Regions from separate parts of the Homo sapiens genome. Here region 1 is linked to region 2. Evidence: fine-mapped expression QTL. A gene starts in region 2. The other region holds a variant in brackets. All regions are shown on one strand. Distances are from middle to middle. Region 1 holds the start of MICALL1 (MICAL like 1). Region 2 holds the start of EIF3L (eukaryotic translation initiation factor 3 subunit L).

Region 1 (11,887 bases), 61 kb after region 2:
GGGATGGTGGACATGACAACTTCCAGCTCAGCGGTGCTTTAGGGTGGGGAGCCGGGATGAGGGAAGCTGGTGGCTATCCGGGGGGGGGTGCTCTGAGGTCTGCAGGGGAACTGCCTCCCCAAAGTTTCAAGCTAGGGGTGGAAGGGGGGATTTGCGGTCATTAGGAGCGGGAAGGAGGCCGGATGGGAGCACGAGGTGTCCCGCCTCCAAAGGGTGGAGGGCTCCCGGTGGGTGGCGCGGCGGCGGCCGCGGCGGTGAAGTCATCGTGGGGAGTGGTCCGCTTGCGGCGGGTGCGGGGGCTTCGCGGGCACCCAGTGGAGCAGCGGGAGCCCGGCGCCGTCGAGGGGCGGGCGATGGGGCGCCGGCCCGTCTTGGTAGGGGTGGGCTCCGCACTGGAGGCGGAGCTGCTGCTGGGTGGGGCGCGCCTCCGGCGCGGACGGAGGCGGCGGGACGCCCGCTCCCACGACCGGCCCACAATGAGGCGAGCGGGCAGCGCGGAGTAGGCGGCGGCCGGCCGGGCCGGGCCACGCGGCGGCGCTGCTCGGGCAGGTTAGGGCAGGGCCGCGGGGCGCCCGAGCGAGGACACCGCGGCCCCGCCTCCGCCCCTCCCCTCGCCTGCCGGTCGGCGCCCGAGCTCGGAGCCGCAGCCGCAGCCGGAAACCGGGCCCGCGCGGCGGCCGCCGTCCCGGCCAAGCCGGGGCCCCGAAGCCAGAGCCGGAGCCGGGCGGGCCGCGGGGTCATGGCTGGGCCGCGGGGCGCGCTGCTGGCCTGGTGCCGCCGCCAGTGCGAGGGCTACCGCGGCGTGGAGATCCGCGACCTGAGCAGCTCCTTCCGGGACGGCCTGGCCTTCTGCGCCATCCTGCACCGGCACCGGCCCGACCTGCTGTGAGTGCGGGGCCCCGGGCGAGCGGGCGGCGCGGGGCGGGCTGGGGCCGCGACCGCCGCCCCCCCTCAGTAACACGAAGCCCGGGCGGTGACAGGCGCCGCCCCCGGACACGGAGACGCCGACCCCCCCGACGGCCCCGGACGCCGGGCGGGTCCCTGAGACCCCGGCCCAGGGCGCCCCTCCCCCGCCCGGCCGCCCTGACCCCGCCCGTGGGATCCCGAACTCTCCCCCGAGGCTGGTCCCTCCGCGGGGACACTGGCCCCGCCCACAAAGCGCTGATTTCCGCCGAGGATCGCTGAACCCCTAAGCCCTTGACCTCTTTGAAGGGGTGTTGAGCCCTCTTTGGGGGCCCTGGGCCTCTCCTACCCTAAACTCTTCTCCACGGGCTCGCCGGGCCTCCCCTCTCCCCCGAGGCTTCCCACTCGGGGTGGCCCCTTGCTCCGGGTGTGCAGGTGAACCCCCACTTCTCTGACCCCCAAATAGGAGCTTGTCTCCGGACAGTAGCACAGTTCCCGGCACAGAGGAGACCTCGGCTAACAGGTGTTGGATGAATGGATGTACAGACCCTGTGCTTTCCCCACGCCCCCCAACTTAGGACGCAGCCCTGCCTCCCGGGTGTGTGCTCGATGGCCCTGCAGCCCTCCTCAGTGGGGCACGCAGGTGGGGCGCGCAAGAGGAGTCACAGGCCGGCAATGTTGGGAAGACTCCTAGGATCCGATTGATAGACACCAACCGGGTGCTGCAGGTTGTGAAATGGCCCCTTCCTGCCCAGAGCTGCCCAATGAGGTTCTCATGGGAAAATGCATTCAGACTCCCCGGAACAGTTGACTTGGAGCCTCTGTCTTTGCTCTCTCTGCCTTGAGCCCTGGAACCTCTCCTCCTTTCGTCCCTTCATTCCTAAAACACTGGGTGAGTTTATCTGGTGCCATTCCTTGCACTTCAGGTCTCACCTGTGAATCAGGGAGGAGAGTTCTGGTCCCTACCCCTTTCGCATGCAGCCCTCTTGCCAGGGCTCCCCCAGCCTGGCAGATGGAGGCTTTCTGTGCCTGTTCCACCTCCAGATTTGCACTGTCCGAGGGCAGCATGTGGGAAGGCTTCTAAGGGATTGCCTCAGGATTCCATGATGCAGGTGCACCTGGTTTACCTGTATGTACCCTGCAGTACCGTGTCTGTGGGTGGTGGCTTGGGCCCTGGAGGAGAGGGTTTTGGGGCTGTGGATACAGAAGGGAACAAGATGAGGTGGTCATGTAGGTGGGCCCCTGCCCGCTGTGGGGCATGTGACACCCATACTAATGGAAGCACAAGGTTGATGCCTGGTTGCCCAGGAGCAGGGGGTAGAAGGATGGAGGAAAAGGGCACCAGGGTTAGACCTGGGCATTGGAAGGGAGGGCCCAAGGGGTCTTCTGTTTTGTTTGAGGGGCAGGAGTGAGGCAGGAAGCAGGGACAAACCCAGTGTGGGAGGGGACTTGGGTGTGAAGTGAAGCCATTTGGTGGGCCTGAGCCTGGTGGCATCAAAGTAAATAAAGGCCGCCTGGTTTGTGTTTAGCTTCTCCATGTCTTAGGCGCATGGCCTTGGGTCCTCATGGGCTCTCTCCAGGCATCAGTGTCCTCATCTGTGAGGTGGGATTGATAATGTGACACAGCTCACAGAAATGTGAGGATTGCATGAGATAACAAGCATTCATTTAACATTAGTTACTGTGAGTAACTAATGTTACTTTTTTTTTTTTTAATGTTTTTTATTTTTTTGAGATGGGGTCTCACTCTGTCACCCAGGCTGGAGTGCAGTGGCACAGTCATGGCTCACTGCAGCCCCCACCTCCCGGGCTCAAGCAATCCTCCCACCTCAACCTCCCTAGTAGCTGGGACCACAGGCACACGCCACCACGCCTGTCTAATTTGTTTGTATTTGTAGAGATGGGTTTTCACCATGTTGCCCAGGCTGGTCTTGAACTCTTGAGCTCAAGTAATCTGCCTACCTCAGCCTCCCAAAATGCTGGGATTACAGGCATGAGCCACCATGCCTGGCCCAATAACAATGTTTGATTTCTTCATTTATTCAACCAGTATTTGTAGAGTCATATTGCTCTGTGCTGGACACTGTACCTGGTAATGGAAGTACCAATCGACAAAACAGGCAACCCTACACGCTCTCCCACACCTGTAGGGGAAACGTGTATAAACGATGATGGCAATTCCATGTACCCTATCAGAGGGCTGGGGGTGGGAGACCTCCTAGGGAGAATATAGTCTTCAAGGAGATGGCAGGAGCCAGGTGAGGGCTGCTGGGTGGACGTTCTGGCATGGGACCCCATCTGAGCAAAGGCAAGGGGCGGGAGGTGTGTGCAAAGCTGGAGGCTGTGTAGCTGAGTGGGGAGCACAAGGTAGCGAGTTGGGAGATGCAGTTGGGACAGATGGCTGACAGCTGCTTTTGCTGGCTAAGGAGCATGGATAGGGGCCTCAGGGAACCATGCAGGGTTTTTTTTGTTTTTGTTTTTGTTTTTTTGAGATGGAGGCCTGTCACCCAGGCTGGAGTGCAGTGGCGTGATCTCGGCTCACCACAACCTCTGCCTCCCGGATTCAAGCGATTCTCCTGCCTCAGCCTCCCAAGTAGCTGGGATTACAGGCACGCACCACCATGCCTGGCTAATTTTTGTAGTTTTTAGTAGAGATGGGGTTTCACCATGTTGGCCAGGCTGGTCTCGAACTCCTGACCTCAGGTGATCCGCCTGCCTCGGCCTCCCAAAGTGCTGGGATTACAGGCGTGAGCCACCATGCCTGGCCGAGCCACGTAGGTTTTTTTTTTTGAGACGGAGTCTCGCTCTGTCAGCCAAGCTGGAGTGCAGTGGCATGATCTCTGCTCACTGCAAGCTCCACCTCTTGGGTTCACGCCATTCTCCTGCCTTAGCCTCCCGAGTAGCTGGGACTACAGGTGCCCGCCACCATGCCTGGCTAATTTGTTGTATTTTTAGCAGAGACGGGGTTTCACTGTGTTAGTCAGGATGGTCTCAATCTCCTGACCTCGTGATCCACCTGCCTTGGCCTCCCAAAGTGCTGGGATTATAGGTGTGAGCCACCGCGCCTGGCCAACCACGTAGGTTTTAAGCAAGGGAGGGATGTGGCTGGAAAAAATGTGCAGGGGAGGGTGGCTCCGCTTCTGAGATCCAGAATCATGTCCAGGCATTCATTTGCAATATTGCCAGCGCATTGCACAGGAGAGAAGCTGAGGCCCAGGTCCCACATAATGTGTAGGGAAGTCCTCAGTGATGGGTTGGGAGGATCTCCGTGAGAATAGGAGTGGCCTAGAGTGAGGGCAAGAATCATCTCCTAAATTGGTTCAGGCTTCTGGGGCTGTGGGCCCTGCCTGGGTGAACCCAGTGTTGGCCCAGGGCTCTGCTGGGACGAGGGTTGTGGGGGCTGGGCCATCCCTCCGCACCACCCGAAATCCAGACATGCTTAAGCTCCTTTGAGGGCGTGGACCATGTGGGTTTCATTTCTGTGTCCTTCATCTTCCCCAGAGCCAAGTAGAACTCCGCAGGCCTCTGAAGACTCTCAGAAAATATATGTGTTACCAAAACACAGATGTTAATTAGGGACAGAGATGGGGGTGGAAGAAAACCTGCAGGATCCTGAAGGTTTTTTACAGTTTTCACACTGTTTTCAACATTGATTCATTCAACAAACATTTACGGAGCATCTTCGAAATTTGGGGAACTGTGTAGGGAGTTGGGGGCACAGAGTAGCTAGAATGTGACCCCAGCCTTCTTGGAACACTTCTGGGGTGACCGAAATAAACGGCTGAGACAAGTTGCTTTTGTCTCATTTGGTCTTGGAAAAAGCCTCTGTTGGGGGCTGGGTACCATGGTGTTTTCCTCGCCCTGTTGCAGTGTCCTGAACCGGACCGGGAGACAGAGGTTTCGAGAGGTGAAACACCTTGCTAAGGTCGCACTCTGAGGCAGTGGCAGAAAAGGGGAGCTAGGGAGGCAGCCCAGGGGAGAAGGAAGTGGCCTGGTCAGAGTGGCAAAAAGGGAGCTGGTGCCCAGACATAGTCACCTTGCCTCTCCCCGTCCACCCAGCCCTGGGGCACCAGACCCCTTCCAAGGTCCTCAAGCAACTCTTTCCTGCCCAGGGTTCACAGTCCCTGGCCCCTGCCTGGAAAAGTGTTGGGGGCAGGAGGAGGGGGCTGTGCTTACCTGGCTCCCTCATATCTGCGAGGCCTGCCCTTTACCAAGCTGGGACTCCACCAGCTTGGGAGGTGGTATTAGTGCTTTTCCTGATTTGCACATGGGACAATGAATGCTGGAAGGACTGCTGATCCCCCCAACCCCATGGTCACATGGGAATTCAGCCCTCAGAGGCGGCGTGGCCTGCTCTTGCCTCTGCCCACCCATCTCCGGCAGTCAGGGCTGCAGTTTTCAGCCATAGAAGGGCAAGGCTGCATGCGGATGCACCCAGGAGGCTGCCCGGCGGGAAGACTGAGCTGTCTCTGCTGGTTTCAGCGGCCTGGAGTGGGGAGGGAGGAGGGGGATAAATAAAGCCTGCAGGCCAGCCAGCTGTCCCGTGCTGGGGCCCCCAGACAGGCCCTGCCACCTCTCACCTTTCCTAGTTTAGAAAATCCCTCACTGCTTCCCCA[A/G]TGGAGGCTGCCCCAGGAGTGGCCCAGTGGGGCCAACCAGCTGTTCTATGCCAGCAGCTCCGGAGTATGTACATTTCCACTCTGGTTCAAACTTGTTCTTCTATTCACGGCCCCATTAAGAAAAACATTCATCTGCAGGCTGGACCGGGTTGGGATGCAGCAAGTTGGTGTGGCTACTCCGAGTGTGTGACACACCTGCAGGGGCCTGTGAGCAGTGGGAGGGCCAGACATGTGGATTCCCAGGGCTGGTGGCTTCCTTTCTCCAGGCCTCAGTGTCCTCATCTATAAAATGAGATCAATTCTTGCCAAACAGAGTTGCTGTGAAAAGAAAGTAAATGAGACAGAGGAGCCCAGCACTGCGCCCTGGGGGAGGTCACATGCGGGTCTTAGTTATGTCTTTGCCACGGACTCCAGGGGTGGCTTCCTGCAGAGAGGCAAAGGATCTTAAGCTTGAAAGCCTGGGCTTGAGCCTCACCCCTTCCCAGTGATTTCCTAGCCTCTGCTTGGATGCCTCCAGGGCCCGTGATCTCATGCCCTGCCCTGCCCTGGCAGCTCCAGCTCTAGCAGCGAATGTTTGCTGCCTCAGTTTCCCCCTTAGTAATCCACAGACTCCCCCCCAGCAACCCTGCTGAGGTTGATGCTGGCTGGGACAAGGTCTTCTCTGTTCAGCTCCTTTCTGACTCTGACCCCGCCCCTATTTCCCAGTCACCTCCCCTCTTGACCAACCCTCCTCCCTTTGCCTCTTGCAGAGATTTTGATTCGCTTTCCAAGGACAATGTCTTCGAGAATAACCGTTTGGTAAGTTCCCGGACAGGTGGAAGCCCAAGAGGCTCTGTGTATGTGTGTGTGTGTGTGTGTGTGTTTGGTGGGGAGGGCAGGGGTCTTGCACGGTGGCTGCCCTTGTACACCGGCCCTGGCTGCACCTTTCCCCACCCTCTGCTTCCCACCAGCCTCCTCATGCATGGAGCACCAGGCTTCCCCTTTCTCCAGGCCATCCTGTGGTGCTTGGGTGGGATTAATACTGAGGGGAGCCCACAGTCACCCCATCCCACTGAAGGGAGCTGGGCCTAGGCTGAGGGGTCGCCCCCTAACGCCTCCTCCTCTTCCTGCTTCGGCTGCTCCCGCCCTTGTACCTGTCACCACCCCAGGCCTTTGAAGTGGCTGAGAAGGAGCTGGGGATCCCCGCTCTCCTGGACCCCAATGACATGGTCTCCATGAGCGTCCCTGACTGCCTCAGCATCATGACCTATGTGTCCCAGTATTACAACCACTTCTGCAGTCCTGGCCAAGGTGAGAGGGGGACTCAGCGTTTCACGGAGGCTGGCCCAGGGGGTGGCCCTGGGGATGTCTGATGCTTGCTACTGGTTTTCTGAGTTGTAAACAGGCTGCTGAGGAGTGTGTCATTCATTTACTTATTCATTAATTCACTCATTGAAATATTTCTTTTTTTTTTTGAGACAGAGTTTCGCTCTTTTTTTTTTTGAGATGGAGTCTTGCCCTGTCACCCAGGCTGGATTGCGATGGCACGATCTCGGCTCACTGCAACCTCCGCCTCCTGGGTTTAACCTCCTGCCTCAGACTCCCAAGTAGCTGGGATTACAGGCACCCGGCACCACGCCCGGCTAATTTTTTGTGTCTTTAGTAGAGACAGGGTTTCACTATGTTGGCCAGGCTGGTCTCAAACTCTTGACCTCGTGATCTGCCCGCCTTGGCCTCCCCAAGTGCTGGGATTACAGGCGTGAGCCACTGTGCCCAGTCCCACTTTTTTTTTTTTTTTGAGACGGAGTTTCACTCTTGTTGCACAGGCTAGAGTGCAATGGCACGATCTTGTCTCACTGCAACCTCCGCTTCCTGAGTTTAAGCAATTCTCCTGTCTCAGCCTCCTGAGTAGCTGGGATTACAGGCACCCACCACTACACCTGGCTAATTTTTGGTATTTTTAGTAGAGATGAGGTTTCACCATGTTGGCCAGGCTGGTCTTGAACTCCTGACCTCAGGTGATCTGCCCGCCTCAGCCTCCAAAAGTGCTGGGACTACAGACGTGAGCCACTGGTGCCCGGCCTGACATATATCTTGAGTAAAAGAGCCTGTGCTGGGCTCTGGGGATGCAGCTGTGAATGTAATCACTGCTGAAGTCCCGTGGGGGAGATAGACACCAAACACACCCACCAGAAAATGAACACAATCATATCAGAGGAGACACAGCAGGTTGCGTTCATCCGCTGCATGGAGTCCACCTCCCCGGCACCCACCCTCACTTCCTGTTTGCAGACACTTCCTTGGGTTTTTCCTCCAGCAGGGAAGTGGCTCTGTCTGGTGAGGCTGCTGTGCTGTCTTCCACAGAAGTGACTGAGAGCTGAGAGGCTGGGGAACTGGGGAACCAGAGTTGCAGGGGCTACAAAGTGACTCGGTTCTGAGTGAGGTCACTGGGCATTCCCATGCAAGGACCTCCCTTGCAGGTAGCTGGGCCTCCCCTTCTGCAGAGATGAGATAGGCCTAGAGAGGGGAAGCAAGGAGCTCAAGATCACACAGCAGACAAACTGAACAGCTGGGTTGAGAATCCAGGTGTCCTGAATCCAACGCTGGATTCCTGCTGTCCCTGGGTCTGAGTAGAGCCCATTTCAGCCCCTCCCTCCTGCCTCTGCTGTCGGTCTAGACAGTTCTGGCCCAACTCTTTTTTTTTTTTTTTTGATACAGAGTTTTGCTCTTGTTGCCTAGGCTGGAGTGCGATGGCGCGATCTCGGCTTACTGCAACCTCTGCCCTCGGGGTTCAAGTGATTCTCCTGCTTCAGCCTCCTGAGTAGCTGGGATTACAGGCATGCACCAACATGTCCGGCTAATTTTTGTATTTTTAGTAGAGATGGGGTTTCGCCACTTTGGCCAGGCTGGTCTCAAACTCCTGACCTCAGGCGATCCACCTGCCTCGGCCTCCCAAAGTGGTAGGATTACAGGCATGAGCCACTGCGCCCGGCCCTGGCCCAACTCTTTAAAGTGTTTTATGAAGTCAGAGGTTTCTTTTCTTTTCTTTCTTTTTTTTTTTTGAAATGGAGTTTCACTCTTCTTGCCCAGGCTGGAGTGCAATGGCGCGGTCTCAGCTCACTGCAACCTCTACCTCCCGGGTTCAAGCGATTCTCCTGTTTTAGCCTCCCAAGTAGCTGGGATTACAGGCACCCGCCACCACACCCGGCTAATTTTTGTAGTTTTAGTAGAGACGGGGTTTCACCATGTTGGCCAGGCTGGTCTCGAATTCCTGACCTCAGGTGATCCACCCACCTCAGCCTCCCAAAGTGCTGGGATTACAGGCATGAGCCACTGCACCCAGCCATCTTTTCTTTCATTATATATATATATGTATATATATACATGCATATACATATATATGTACATATATTATGTGTATATATGCGTGCGCGCACACACACACACACGCACATATATGTGTATTTTTTTTGAGACAGGGTTTTACTCTGTTGTGTTGCCTAGGCTGGAGTGCAGTGGCATGATCACAGCTCAATGCGTCCTCAACCTTCCTGGGCTGCGGTGATCCTCCTATCTCAGCCTACTGAGAAGCTGGGACTACTGGTGCATGCAACCACACCCAGCTAACTTTTATATTTTTTGTAGAGGTGGAGTATCACCATGTTACCCAGGTTGGTCTTGAACTCCTAAGCTCAAGGGATCTACCCTTCTCGGCCTCCCAAAGTGCTGGGATTACAGGCATGAGCCACTATGCCCAGCCATAAATAAATAACTTTAGGAAAAAAAGAAAAAATAGCCGGGTGAAGTGGCTCATGCCTGTAATCCCAGCACTTTGGGAGGCCGAGGCAGGTGGATTGCTGTTGAGACCAGACTGGGCAACATAGCAAGAACCTGTCTCTACCAAAATAAAAATAAAAAAATTAACCAGGCATAGTGGTGGCACACCTGTAGTCCTAGCTACATGGGAGGTTGAGATGGGAGGTTTGCTTGAGGCCAGGAGTTTGAGGCTGCGGTGAGCTATGATCACGCCAGTGCACTGCAGCCTGGGCAACAGAGCGAGACCCCATCCCTAAACAGAAAAAATAAACAAGAAAATTTAGAACATGGCAAAAGCAGAAAAATTAAAATAATGTCTTATACCCCTTCCCCCTGATGTAACACTAGGGATTAAAATAATTGAACAAATAACATTATGTATATTTTAATAGAAAACAAAATGAAAGTATTTCCAGACCCCAGAGGCTCTGGTGAGAGGCAGTCTAAGGTTGGGGTTAAGAGCATGGACTCAAAATTTTCACTCTGCCATTTCCTCTTTGGGTGACCATGGGTCAGTTATTTAACCACTCTGCCTCAGTTTCCCTTTTGCAGTGAGGATAGGAATAACACCCATCTCACAGGGTTGACTTGAGGAGTAAATGAGGAAATGTATAAACCAGTGTTTGGCACCTATTTAGATTAGTATTCTTTTTTTTTTTTTTTTTTGAGACAGAGTCTCGCTGTGTCATCCAGGCTGGAGCTCAGTGGCACAACCTTGGCAGACTGCAGCCTCTGCCTCCCATGTTCAAGCGATTCTCATGCCTCAGTCTCCCAAGTAGCTGGGATTACAGGTGCGCACCACCACGCCTGGCTTAATTTTTGTATTTTTAGTAGAGATAGGGTTTCACTATGATGGCCGGTCTGGTCTGGGATTTCTGACCTCAAGTGATCCACCCACCTTGGCCTCCCAAAGTGCTGGGATTACAGGTGTGAGCCACTGCGCCCAGCCAAGATTAGTATTCTTACTACTTCTTATTTCACTGATTAGCGTTTAGCTGGATTCCTTAGAATCGCAATTCAGCCTTAGCCTGCGGCCTTCCTTGTGGCCAAACCTGAATCTCTCTCTACTGAGCTCATCTCTGGGACTCTGCGGGGTGGGTGGGGTGTGGGCAGCTGTTGGTGGTACGCAGCTCATTCGTTGGCCCTCTCTGGGCAGCCTGGTGGGCAGGGGCAGCCCTGGTGGGCACAGCTTACCGTGCTGAGTGTGGGCATGGGCACTCCCTCGCCCTGCAGGGATTCTCATTGATAAAGGTACAGTTTGTGGCAGACAGTCCTTTGTTATGCTGCCTGTATTTTCAGCCTCGCAATGTATTTTCATACCTTCTCTAATAAATCTGCCTTTTGTAATAAAAAAGAAAAGGTACAGTTTGTGCCTTTCATACAACTTGGCCCCTAAATGCAAACCATTTTTATCCCATCTGCTGCTTAAGCAAAGGAAACAGTGATGTGTTCCAACTCTGGAGGCAAAGCTGGCTGTTCGACTCCCCCAGATGGTCCTGTACTGTACTTTCTGGGCGAGTGGAGGCATTTCAAGAGTGACTTTGACTAGCCTTGACTTTTTACCAGACTGGGTAAGTTTGGAGCCTGCCCCTGGCTGAGATGTCGTGGTGCTGTGCTGAGTGTTCAGCTGTGCCACCACGCTCAGTGGGTGCCAGTGACCCCGGGCACAACAGACAGACCCCCACCCTGGAGGAGCTGCAGCCTGCTCAGGGAGCCAGGGCAGGAGTGAAGGAAGCCGAGTGGCTGTGGGAAATCAGAAAGGGGTTGGGGAGTAATGTCAGGATGAAGTCCAGCTTCTTCATGTGGCTTCTAAGGGCCTCTCCCCAGTCAGCTGGAGCCACTCCTGGCACCAACCATAGTGTTATTGAATTTATTTCTTTTTTTGAGACAGAGTCTTGCTCGGTTGCCCAGGCTGGAGTGCAGTGGCGCGATCTCAACTCACTGTAACCTCCACCTCCCAGGTTCGAGCGATTCTCCTGCCTTAGCCTTCCGAGTGGCTGAGTGGCTGTGATTATAGGCGCGCACCACCATGTCCAGCTGATTTTTGTATTTTTAGTAGAGATGGTGTTTCACTATGTTGGCCAGGCTGGTCTTGAACTCCTGACCTCAAATGATCCACCCACCTCAGCCTCCCAAAGTGCTGGGATTATAGACGTGAGCCACTGTGCCCGGCCTGAGGAGCTGAGTCTTAGAGGAACCCAGGGTGGGTGGGTTTGTTCTGGTGAGGGGGTGTGCAGGCCGGGTTCTGGCCCCCAATACCCACTTGGGGATAGGCAGGACAGCTCCTTGTCAACCCCAAGGAGGCAGCGCCTTTCCTGAGCTGTCAGGGCAGCACCATATGGTTCCTTTCTTTTCCTTTCCTTCACCTCCTCTACCCTGGTGGCAGGGAAGCTGCTGGTGTAGCCACACGCGGGTGCTGTGTTCTGTGATCGTACTGTTGCGCCATTGTTCGGATTGGCTCTGTGCAGTAGGAGTCACTCTCCCCATTTGATGGAGGTTCAGTGAGGTTCATGGCTTGCCCTCAGCACTTGGCTTAAAACTGGAAGCGTCCCCGGGCCCGTGTGAAGCGGGAG
Region 2 (10,576 bases):
CAGACTTGGTGCCCCTGAGATGCTCACAATCCAATGGGAGAAGACCAGGAAACAAATAAGTGTTCCTCAAGCAACATTTCATGGGTGCACGTTTTCATAAAACTTCTCACAATCCCGTACCCCACAAGCACTTCTATAAAGTAGACAAGAAGGACCATCCCTATTTTATAGGTGAGGAGTTGAAAAGCAGAGGGAAGAGACTCATTCACAGTTGCCCAGCTCTCACCGGACCAGGTCTTGTGTCCTGGCAAAAGTTCTTTCCATATATAAACCCTCCCACTCAACCCAGTTAAAATGTAATCTTTCCGCACGGTGGGTCACGCCTGTAATCCCAGCACTTTGGGAGGCCAAAATGGGCAGATGACAAGGTCGGGAGTTCAAGACAAGCCTGGCCAACATGATGAAACCTCGTTTCTACTAAAAATACAAAAATTAGCTGGGTGTGGTGGCGCACGCCTGTAATCCCAGCTATTCAGGACACTGAGGCAGGAGAGTAGCTTGAACCTGGGAGGCAGAGGTTGCGGTGAGCTGAGATCGCACCATGGCACTCCAGCCTGGGTGACAGAGCGAGACTCCATCTCAGAAAGAAACAAAAACAAAAAAAAGGCCTGGCGCTGTGGCTCACGCCTGTAATCCCAGCATTTTGGGAGGCTGAGGCAGGCAGATCACGAGGTCAGGAGATTGAGACCATTCTGGCTAACATGGTGAAACCCCGTCTCTACTAAAAATACAAAAAAATTAGCCTGGTGTGGTGGTGGGCACCTTTAGTCCCAGCTACTCAGGAGGCTGAGGCAGGAGAATGGCGTGAACCCAGGAGGCAGAGCTTGCGGTGAGCCGAGATCGCACCACTGCACTCCAGTCTGGGCGACAGAGAAAGACTCCATCTCAAAAAGAAAAAAAAAAGTAATCTTTCTCTTACAATTGGAAAAGCACTTCCAGAATTTTCAGTGTTTGCAGTCGCCATTGTGAGGTTTATCATTGTACTATATGGAAAAAAATGCTATGTTTATTTGTACTCTCCTCGTCTGCCCCATAATGGATACAGTGCTGAGACAGGATCTCTCACTGTCACTCAGGCTGGAGTGCAGTGGTGTGATCACAGCTCACTGCACTCAAGCTTTCCTCCCACCTCAGCCTCCTGAGTAGCTGGGGCCACAGATGTGTACCACCGTGCCTGGCTAATTATTTTTTTGATTTTTTGTAGACATGGTCTCACTTTTTTGTTCAGGCTGGTCTTGAACTCCTCGCCTCAAGGGATCCTCCTGCCTCCACATCCCAAAATGCTGAGATTACAGGAGTGAGCCACAGTGCCTGGGCCCCAATTTTTTTTTAAGATGGGGTCTCACTATATTGCCCAGGCTGATCTTGAGCTCCTGAGCTCAAGTGATCCTCCCACCTTGGCCTCCCAAAGTGCTGGCATGAGCCACCACATCCAGCCCCATGAAAATCTTCTGACTTCACAACTCCTTCTCAAATGTCATGAACATTTTGAGAATTGTTGTCAAATTGGAGCAACCTGTATCAAATTCCTGTCATATATGGACTATAAGATTTCAGGTAATTTCTTTTCTTTTTTTTTTTTTTGAGACGGAGTCTCGCTCTGTCGCCCAGGCTGGAGTGCAGTGGCAGGATCTCGGCTCACTGCAAGCTCCGCCTCCCGGGTTCACGCCATTCTCCTGCCTCAGCCTCCCAAGTAGCTGGGACTACAGGCGCCCGCCACTACGCCCGGCTAATTTTTTGTATTTTTAGTAGAGACGGGGTTTCACCATTTTAGCCGGGATGGTCTCGATCTCCTGACCTCATGATCCACCCGCCTCGGCCTCCCAAAGTGCTGGGATTACAGGCGTGAGCCACCGCGCCCGGCCAATTTCTTTTCTTTTTTCTTTTTTTTTTTGAGGCAGTTTTGCTCTTGTTGCCCAGGCTGGAGTGCAGTGGTGCAATCTTGGCTCACCACAACCTCCGCCTCCTAGGTTCAAGTGATTCTCCTGCCTCAGCCTCCCGAGTAGCTGGGACTACAGGCATATGCCACCATGCCCGGCTAATTTTATATTTTTAGTAGAGACGGGGTTTCACTATGTTGGCCAGGCTGGTCTCGAACTCCTGACCTCAGGTGATCCATCTGCCTTGGCCTCCCAAAGTGCTGGGATTACAGGTGTGAACCACTGTGCCAGGCCTCGGAGAAGGGTTATTATTTAAACTAGAAACTAAATGTCTCCCAAAGTTAGCTCGGTTCGAGCCAGGAATGATTAAGGGCAGTCTGAAGATTAAATGGAAGATGAGGGTTGGTTAGATCAGATCTCTTTCACTGTCATTATTTTCTCACTGTTACAATTTTTGCAAAGGTGGTTTCAGCAATAAAAATATTTCACAAATTTTACAAAAGCAAAGGACCATGAGGACATTGTTGGGGACCCTCCCTGAACCAAGGAAGAGACTGTGACTCTTCCTTGGTTCAGGGAAGGTCCTGAACCAAATCGAGGGTCGGTAAAGCTTAAGCTCCATTATTTCCAAATTTGTGTCACCTCTGGTGACAGCACAAGGAAGAAACACAAAACAAGAACGCAGCATAGGGAGTTGGGGCTGGGCATTGCAATTCTCAATAGGATGTTGAGTGGATGGCATCAGAGCAGACACCTGAAGGTGCCATGCAGATACCGATGGGGAAGGGAATGGGAGTGGGGGTGCCACTGCATTCGATTCTAGACTTGGATAACAGTGAGTGCAAAATCCCAGAGGTGGAGCGTGCCTCAGTGGGAAAAGCAAGGAGGGCGGCGTGACAAAGGGACCCAGAGAGTCCTGGTCACACAGCAAATCAGTGGCGGAGTAGGGACTGGAACTCGGATTTCCACTAGGTGTTGTGTATGGGCAGATGGCTAAACTAAGGCCTCTCCTTGACTCATACACCGGTTTTTATTGGTTTGCTTTATAACCCCATCTCTACCTTGAGGGTTTCCCCTGGCCTCGAACCCGGTGTACTCAAGAGCTGCCCATGTCCCAGGCTTCGCGACACAGCTGGCCTCATCTTTGCCTGCTCCAACTTTAATGTCCAAAGTTGGGTGGCTCCTGTTCTCCATTCCCTCTTACTGCATGGGACCAAATCTCAATTTTTTTTTTTCTTTTTTTTTTTAGACGGAGTCTTGCTCTGTCGCCCAGGCTGGAGTGCAGTGGCGCGATCTCGGCTCACTACAGCCTCTGCCTCTCAGGTTCCACCGATTCTCCTGCTTCAGCCTCCTGAGTAGCTGGGATTACAGGCGGACGCTACCACTCCCGGCTAATTTTTGTATTTTTAATAGAGACGGGGTTTCGCCATTTCGGCCAGGCTGGTCTCGAACTCCTGATCTCAGATCATCCACCCGCCTCGGCCTCCCAAAGTGTAGGGATTACAGGCGTGAGCCATCGCGCCCGGCCAAATCTCAATTTTTATCCCCAGTAAGTTTAGTCTTGTGAAGTCCGAACGTTTGAATAATTTACTCGCTGCAGGCAAACCGCCTACAACTAAATCCATCAGGCCCCCGTATCCGAATCTTCCTTCACGCGAGAAGCCGGCCATCTTTTGTGTAGCATTCTTTCTGGTTCCTCTAACTTTGCCTCTCCTTTACGCCAAATACGTGTCCTTATATCTGAATCTACACCACTATTATAGATTCACCTTCTTTGAGAAGTCCCTATTTGAAGAGAGGAAAATTCAGGCTACTTGTAACCCTCTTATTCTTTTTAGACGGAGTTTTCCCTCTTGTTGCCCAGGCTAGAGTGCAATGGCGCGATCTCGGCTCACCGCAACCTCCGCCTCCCGGGTTCAAGCGACTCTCCTGCCTCAGCCTCCCGAGTAGCTGGAATTACAGGCATGCGCCACCACTCCCGGCTAATTTTGTATTTTTAGTAGAGACGGGGTTTCTCCATATTGGTCAGGCTGGTCTCAAACCCCCGGCCTCAGCCTCAGGTGATCCGCCCGCCTCGGCCTCCCAAACTGGTGGGGTTACAGGTGTGAGCCACGGAACGCGGCTCCTCTTCCTTCTGGATATGGCTGTCTCAGATGGCCAGAGGCCTCGGAAAGGCTTCCGGTTTCCCGGCAGGCCCGAGTGGGGCTGAACTTCCGGCCTCAGGACGCAGGCGCGGGCCGCTCATTTCGCTCTTTCCGGCGGTGCTCGCAAGCGAGGCAGCCATGTCTTATCCCGCTGATGATTATGAGTCTGAGGTAAGGTGGCCGTAAGGGCGCGGTGGGCTCCACGACGGGGTGATCTCTGGGACCACTGGATGTGGGTCCCGGCGCGAGGCAGCTTCCGGGTCGCGGCCAGCTCCGGCCGACCTCCCGCCCGGCCCTCAGGCTGCTCCCACAGTTCCCGGTCCCTAGACAACCCTGGCTCTGCCCGCCCACTTCGCGTGTTCGATTGGCTTGTCCTTCCCCTTTCTAAGACCGGAGACTAAGGCCTGTTAGACGTTTCTGTGTTTCTGCACCTGAGTTTTTTTGGTCTAGGCTCCGTCTGGTCAAATCTCGCTGATTCCCACAGCCTCTTGTCCTTTGCTCCACCTCATTGCACCCGTAATGTTGTATTGTCATTGTCTGTTTACTGTCCCTTTTCTCTAAGGCGTGTGAGTTCCTCAAAGGCAGGCACAGTGTCTTATTCGCCTCTGTATCCTTAGCTCTCTGCTTGGCATCTAGACTCTAGGATGAGCGTTTTGAATTCACGACTTGGCGGCTGTCCTTGACTGTGTCTCTTTCCTTCTAGGCGGCTTATGACCCCTACGCTTATCCCAGCGACTATGATATGCACACAGGTGAGACCACGGGTTAGGCTGGCTGAGTACTCGTAGGGATCAGTTCCTTTGGAATGTCTTAGAACCAGCTCTGACAGGCATCAAAAATTGCTCTTTGATGGTCCAGGTTTGGAGTCAGTCATTAGCTGCCAGTGCGAGGGGTTTTATAAAGCCTAATAAACCAGGCTTTTTATCATAGTCCACCTCAGTCTTGGAAGAGAAGGATTACTTACCTGGCTATGGTTTTCTTGTGTAAACTATTAGCCAAATAAGAAAAGCTTTTTTGTTTTTGTTTTTGTTTTTGTTTTTGAGATGGAGTTTCCCTCTGTCCCCCAGGCTGGAGTGCAGTGGTGCGATCTCGGCTCACTGCAACCTCCGCGTCCCTCGTTCAAGCAGTAGTTCTCTTGTCTCAGCCTCCTGAGTAGCTGGGATTACAGGCGCCCACCACCATTCCCAGCTAATTTTTAAATTTTTTTAATAGAGACGAGGTTTCGCCGTGTTGTCCAGGCTGGTCTTGAACTCCTGACCTCAGGTGATCCACCCGCCCCAACCTCCCAAAGTGCTGGGATTACAGGCGTGAGCCACCGCGCCTGCCCCAAGGAAGAAAATCTTGATGTGAAAAATTTAAGTAATTCAAACCAAGCCCGAATGAAATCTTTTTAGGAGGTGTCTGAGGTTTCCTGAAACGTTATAGTGACTTGACTTAGTAGTCAGTGTTATCCATTGTTCTAAGTACTTTGTATGAAATATTTTGTTTAATCCTTACAGCAGTTCTGTATGTTAATGTCTCCTAAAGAATAGAAAATATAGCAGAGAGGTTTATTAGTAGTAACTTGGCACAGTCATATATTTAAAAGGTGACAGTTATTCATTCAAGAAATATTAAGTACCTGTTACCACTTACTTTCCAACAGTCTTGCCTCTCTCCCCTCCAACGCACACTTTTCTAGGCCCTGAGGGTATGTCTGAGTACAAGACAGACGAGATTCCTGACTTCCTAGACTTGGGAGAAGGGTGCAAAACAGATAATAAGTGAAAAATAACTTTAAGTCATGGTAATATTTTTGAAGAAACAGGGACAACGAGATTGGGAGTGACTTGAGATGTTTGTATCTCTGAGTATTCAAAAGGGAATTTTACGCAGACCTGAGTTTAGTTTCTGGGGTGGTCTTGCCATTTCGTTCTATCATATATGTGGGTTTGAGCATACTCTGTATTTGTTGTATCCAACCTCCAGGAGATCCAAAGCAGGACCTTGCTTATGAACGTCAGTATGAACAGCAAACCTATCAGGTGATCCCTGAGGTGATCAAAAACTTCATCCAGTATTTCCACAAAACTGTCTCAGATTTGATTGACCAGAAAGTGTATGAGCTACAGGCCAGTCGTGTCTCCAGTGATGTCATTGACCAGAAGGTGTATGAGATCCAGGACATCTATGAGAACAGGTATGGGCTACTGGCTGAAAGGGCCTCTTTCTGGGTGGGACTGGCCTGGTAATATAGTTCCTACAAATGAGGTGAGCACTCTGTAAACAGTACTTTCGGGGGGGTTGGGGGGTGGGGGTCTTTGTGAGTCCTTGAGGCTAGGGACATTTTATTTTGTTAGACTTTATTTTATTTATGCATTTGTTTATTTTTTGAAACGGAGTGTCACTCTGTCGCCCAGGCTGGAGTGCAGTGGCAAGATCTCGGCTCACTGCAACCTCCGCCTCCTGGGTTCAAGTGATTCTCCAGCCTCAGCTTCCCGAGTAGCTGGGACTACAGGCATGTGCCACCATGCCTAGTTAATTTTTTTGTATTTTTAGTAGAGACAGAATTTCACCATGTTGGCCAGGCGTGTGTTGAACCCCTGACCTCAAGTGATCCACCCGCCTCAGCCTCCCAAAGCACTGGGATTACAGGTGGGAGCCACCATGCCTGGCCTAATTTTTGTATTTTTAGTAGAGACGGGGTTTCATCATGTTGGCCAGGCTGGTCTTGAACTTCTGACCTCAAGTGATGTACCCCCGTTGGCCTCCCAGAGTGCTAGGATTACAAGCGTGAGCCACCATGCCCGGCCTGTTGGACTTTATATCCTCAGAAATTTATACAAAGCCTAAAATAATATCACTATTAACAATTATAATAATAATGATTAGCATTTGTTTTTATTACCAGGATAGATCCATCAATGTTCAGTGTGTTGTTTGTGTTTTTACTCATTTACCCTTCACAGTAAGCCCATGAAGTAGCAGTTTTTCTCATTTTACAGATGAGGAAACAGCACAGAAATAAGTCATGTAGCTAGTTTAATGGATGTGCTGAGATTTGAACCTGCAGTGTCTGGCACCAAAGCCTAATTTCTAAACTGTGCTATGCAGCCCTTCAGTACATATCAGAGCAAGCTGAACTCCGCAGGTTTTGAGGGGCTGCCGTTGTGTAATGAGCGTTAGAGATAAGATAGGTCAGTCAAAGCTGGGATAGTCAGGAGTGACTTCACCAAGGAAATAGAATTTAAGCAAGTCAGAAGGATGAGGGAGAGAAAACAAATAGCCAAAGGCCTATTGATCAATGAATAGGATCTCTGACATGTGTTTTCTTTTTTTGTTGTTTTGAAAGAGCTGATTGTAGTTGAAAAGCAGAGGAAACCTCAGACATTGCATGGTTTTAGGCCTCACCCCTGCCACTCTCGTGAGCCTAAGTTCTACTTGGTGTGGACTCCAAGGTCCTTCCCGCCCCTGCAAGCCACCCATTAGGTTGAGCTGAGAGATCAGCCAATGGGAACAGAGTCACTTATGACCAAGAAGAATTGATCTGGGGGTTAGTTAGTGAGGAGAGAGAAAGGGAGAAAACCTTGTTCGGAGGTTGAACACCTCCAGCCGAAGAAGGTGCAGCATCGAGGTCTTTCACCACTAGCAAATGGATCCAAGTCATGCGGCACCAAAAGAGGTTAGCAGCTGAAGGGTGTTGAAGTGACACAACACCAAAACATGCTACCAATGATGAATCCGTATCTGTACAGGTCTCCAGCAGCCTCAGTTCTTGCCTCCTCAAAAGAAAGAATTCGACTGAGGGGTAAAATGCTACCGATGATGAGTCCGTATCTGTACAGGTCTACAGCAGCCTCAGTTCTTGCCTCCTCACAAGAAAGAATTACACTGAGGGCTAAAATGCTACTGATGATGAGTCTGTATCTGTACGGGTCGACAGCATCCTCAGTTCTTGACTCCTAACAAGAAAGAATTCGACTGAGGGGCACAAGGCAGAAGAAGAGAGGGAGGCAAGTTTGAGAGCAGGAGTGAAAGTTTATTAAAAAGCTTTAGAACAGGAATGAAAGAAAGGAAAGGACAGTTGGAAGAGGGCCAGGTGGGTGACCTGAAAGGCAAGTGTGCTGAACTGTGTTTTCTTTATTCCCCGGGTCTTTTCTGATTAGAAGTATATAAATCAGCGCCTACAAAAATTAGCTGGGGCATGGTGGCAGCATGCCTATAGTCCCAGCTAGTTGGGAGGCTGAGGTGGGAGGATCACTTGAGCCTGGGAGGTTGAGGCTGCAGTGAGCTGCACAATGGAGCGAGACCCTCTCTCAAAATTAAAAAATGGACCTGATGTTCAATAGAAATGTAGCTAGACATTAATTTTAATTTTTCAGCCAAGCGAAGTGGAGATTTATTTAAAATATTATTTCTATATGTAATCAGTATTTAAAAATTAAGGGGATATTTGCCCTTTTTTTTCTTTATACTTAAAGTTTCCTAAATCCAGTGTGTATCAGAAATACTTGCTTTGTGTTTAGATTTTATAGAGTTTATGACTGGAAAAGTAATTCAAATTTGAAATTTGAATCTTCAAATAGTAGAGTAATTCCAAATAGACCTAAAAGTTTTCCAATACTGAGTTAAGTGTTGGTTTTTAAACTTAAATGGCAACTAACTGAAATTTAAAATTTAACTCTTTGCTTATATAGTAGCCACATGTAGCTAGTGGCTATTGCATTGGGCAGTGCCCGCAGATACAGATGACAGTTGAAGCCAAGCATCTTGTAAGTCTTTCTCTAGGAGAATGTGAGAAGAAATGCTGGTGCCTTAAGAAGTATGTTTCTTTAGGGATGGGTGGGCAGGCAAAGAAAGGATCTAGTAAAGGAGGCAGAAAGAAAAGTGAAAAGTAGATAGTAAATTGGCAAAGAAATGTCACAGGAACCAAAAAGTCTGCAGAAGAAACTGAGGAAGAGAGTATCACCAAATGTTTTAGTGAGGTCCAGATGAGAAAAAAAGCCAGTTGAATTTGGTAACTTGGAGGGCCTTGATAACCTTAGCAAGGTCAATGTCAGTAGAGTGATGGAAGCAACAGCCAGAGAGCAGTGGGGTGAGAAAGGGGAATTGGTAAGTATCGGGGACATAAAGGGTCACTGAGTGGCTTTGTGTTTTGTTTCTGTGTTTTTTCTGTTTTTGTTTTTTGTTTTTTGAGACAGGATTTCGCTCTTGTTGCCCAGGCTAGAGTGCAATGGCGCAATCTCAGCTCATCGCAACCTCCGCCTCCTGGCTCCAAGCGATTCTCCTGCCTCAGCTTCCCAAGTAGTTGGGATTATAGGTGTGCACCACCATGCCTGGCTAATTTTGTATTTTTAGTGGAGACGGGGTTTCACCGTGTTGGTCAGGCTGGTCTGGAACTCCTAACCTCAAGTGATCCACCCGCCTCAGCCTCCCAAAGTGTTGAGATTACGGGTGTGAGCCAGCGCGCCTGGCCTGTTTCAGTGTTTCTTTTCTGTTCTGTTTCTGTGTTTCTCCCCAACCCCCATCCCGTAGAGACAGGGCCTTCCTATATTGTCCAGGCTTGTCTTGAATTCCTGGGTTCAAGCGATACCCCTATCTTGTCCTCCCAAAGTGTTGAGATTACAGGCGTGAGCCATCATGCCTGGCCTGTTCAGTGTTTTTTAGGGGAACTTGAGCATGTTTATATGTTGGACTAAAAGAGCCAGAGAAGCAGGAGGGGTGGGGCTTGAGGAGATTGGAGGAAAGTATTAATAGCTGCTGAGGGCATCAGGAGAAGAAAATTAAACAACCTGTTGCAGGTTTGTCAAGTAGCAGTGTTTGGATTGGATAGGCAGCAGTGTTTAAATTGGATGCTGTAGGTCTGTTGTGGCCTTGGACTGCAGCAGACTGATTTGCTTCTGTGTTTAGAGACGTTTGGATGTGCTCCAGGAGATGGAAACGCTGTGTTAAAGAATGGTGGCCAAAAAAGTAGTTCTTATAGCAGAAAACAGCAAGCAGTTAAATATGGCTATAGTTAATGATACAGAGGCAGGAGATTATCCTGAAAAGCTTGATGGGTCCCTAACTGATACAAAAACAATATTTTCTTGTGTTGAGAAAGATTGAAGTGTGGAGTTGGGTTGAGGACAGTTGTGGGCTTGAAGGGCTTTGGCCTCAGCTCTGTTTATTTGACATCTTCCCCTTTCTAAGCCTGGGTCCTCATCTGTAAAATGTTAGGATTGGCATTCTCCAGTCCTTTTGGAATTTTAGAGATTTTTTTCTTGATTTTTAGCTGGACCAAGCTGACTGAAAGATTCTTCAAGAATACACCTTGGCCCGAGGCTGAAGCCATTGCTCCACAGGTTGGCAATGGTAGGTGTGAGCTCTTTATATCTTGTGCACTGAGTGGAATCCAGTGGCTGAGTCATTAGACAGGAAGCTCAAGAGGGTCTGTGTCTGTTTTGCTCACCATTTTGTTTCCTTGGTGCTTGGTATGTAGTAGGTCCTTGGCAAAATAACTTGTCGAAGGCTGGATGATTTAAGAGAGGACAGAGATCTCTCATATATGGTGAAATTTAGATCTTTGTACTG

Evidence for each region.
Region 1: its variant is fine-mapped to the expression of EIF3L in whole blood (TOPMed, PIP above 0.99).

What each region holds. Positions count from the first base shown.
Region 1 is chr22:37,905,684-37,917,570 of GRCh38, forward strand. MICALL1 (MICAL like 1) reads left to right here and starts at 614. Exons shown (of 16, transcript NM_033386.4): 1 at 614-885; 2 at 6,269-6,317; 3 at 6,668-6,809. The coding sequence starts at 740. RefSeq lists enhancers at 1-120, 121-936, 937-1,752, 1,753-2,566, 4,556-5,349 and 1 more and silencers at 227-946, 1,057-1,166. The variant A/G (reference allele first, on the strand shown) is at 5,520.
Region 2 is chr22:37,845,288-37,855,863 of GRCh38, forward strand. EIF3L (eukaryotic translation initiation factor 3 subunit L) reads left to right here and starts at 4,132. Exons shown (of 13, transcript NM_016091.4): 1 at 4,132-4,195; 2 at 4,728-4,776; 3 at 5,993-6,203; 4 at 10,278-10,357. The coding sequence starts at 4,163. MIR659 (microRNA 659) reads right to left here and starts at 2,487; the gene lies at 2,391-2,487. It also overlaps a transcript of ANKRD54 not described here. RefSeq lists enhancers at 3,251-3,773, 3,774-4,296, 4,297-4,818 and a silencer at 7,015-7,309.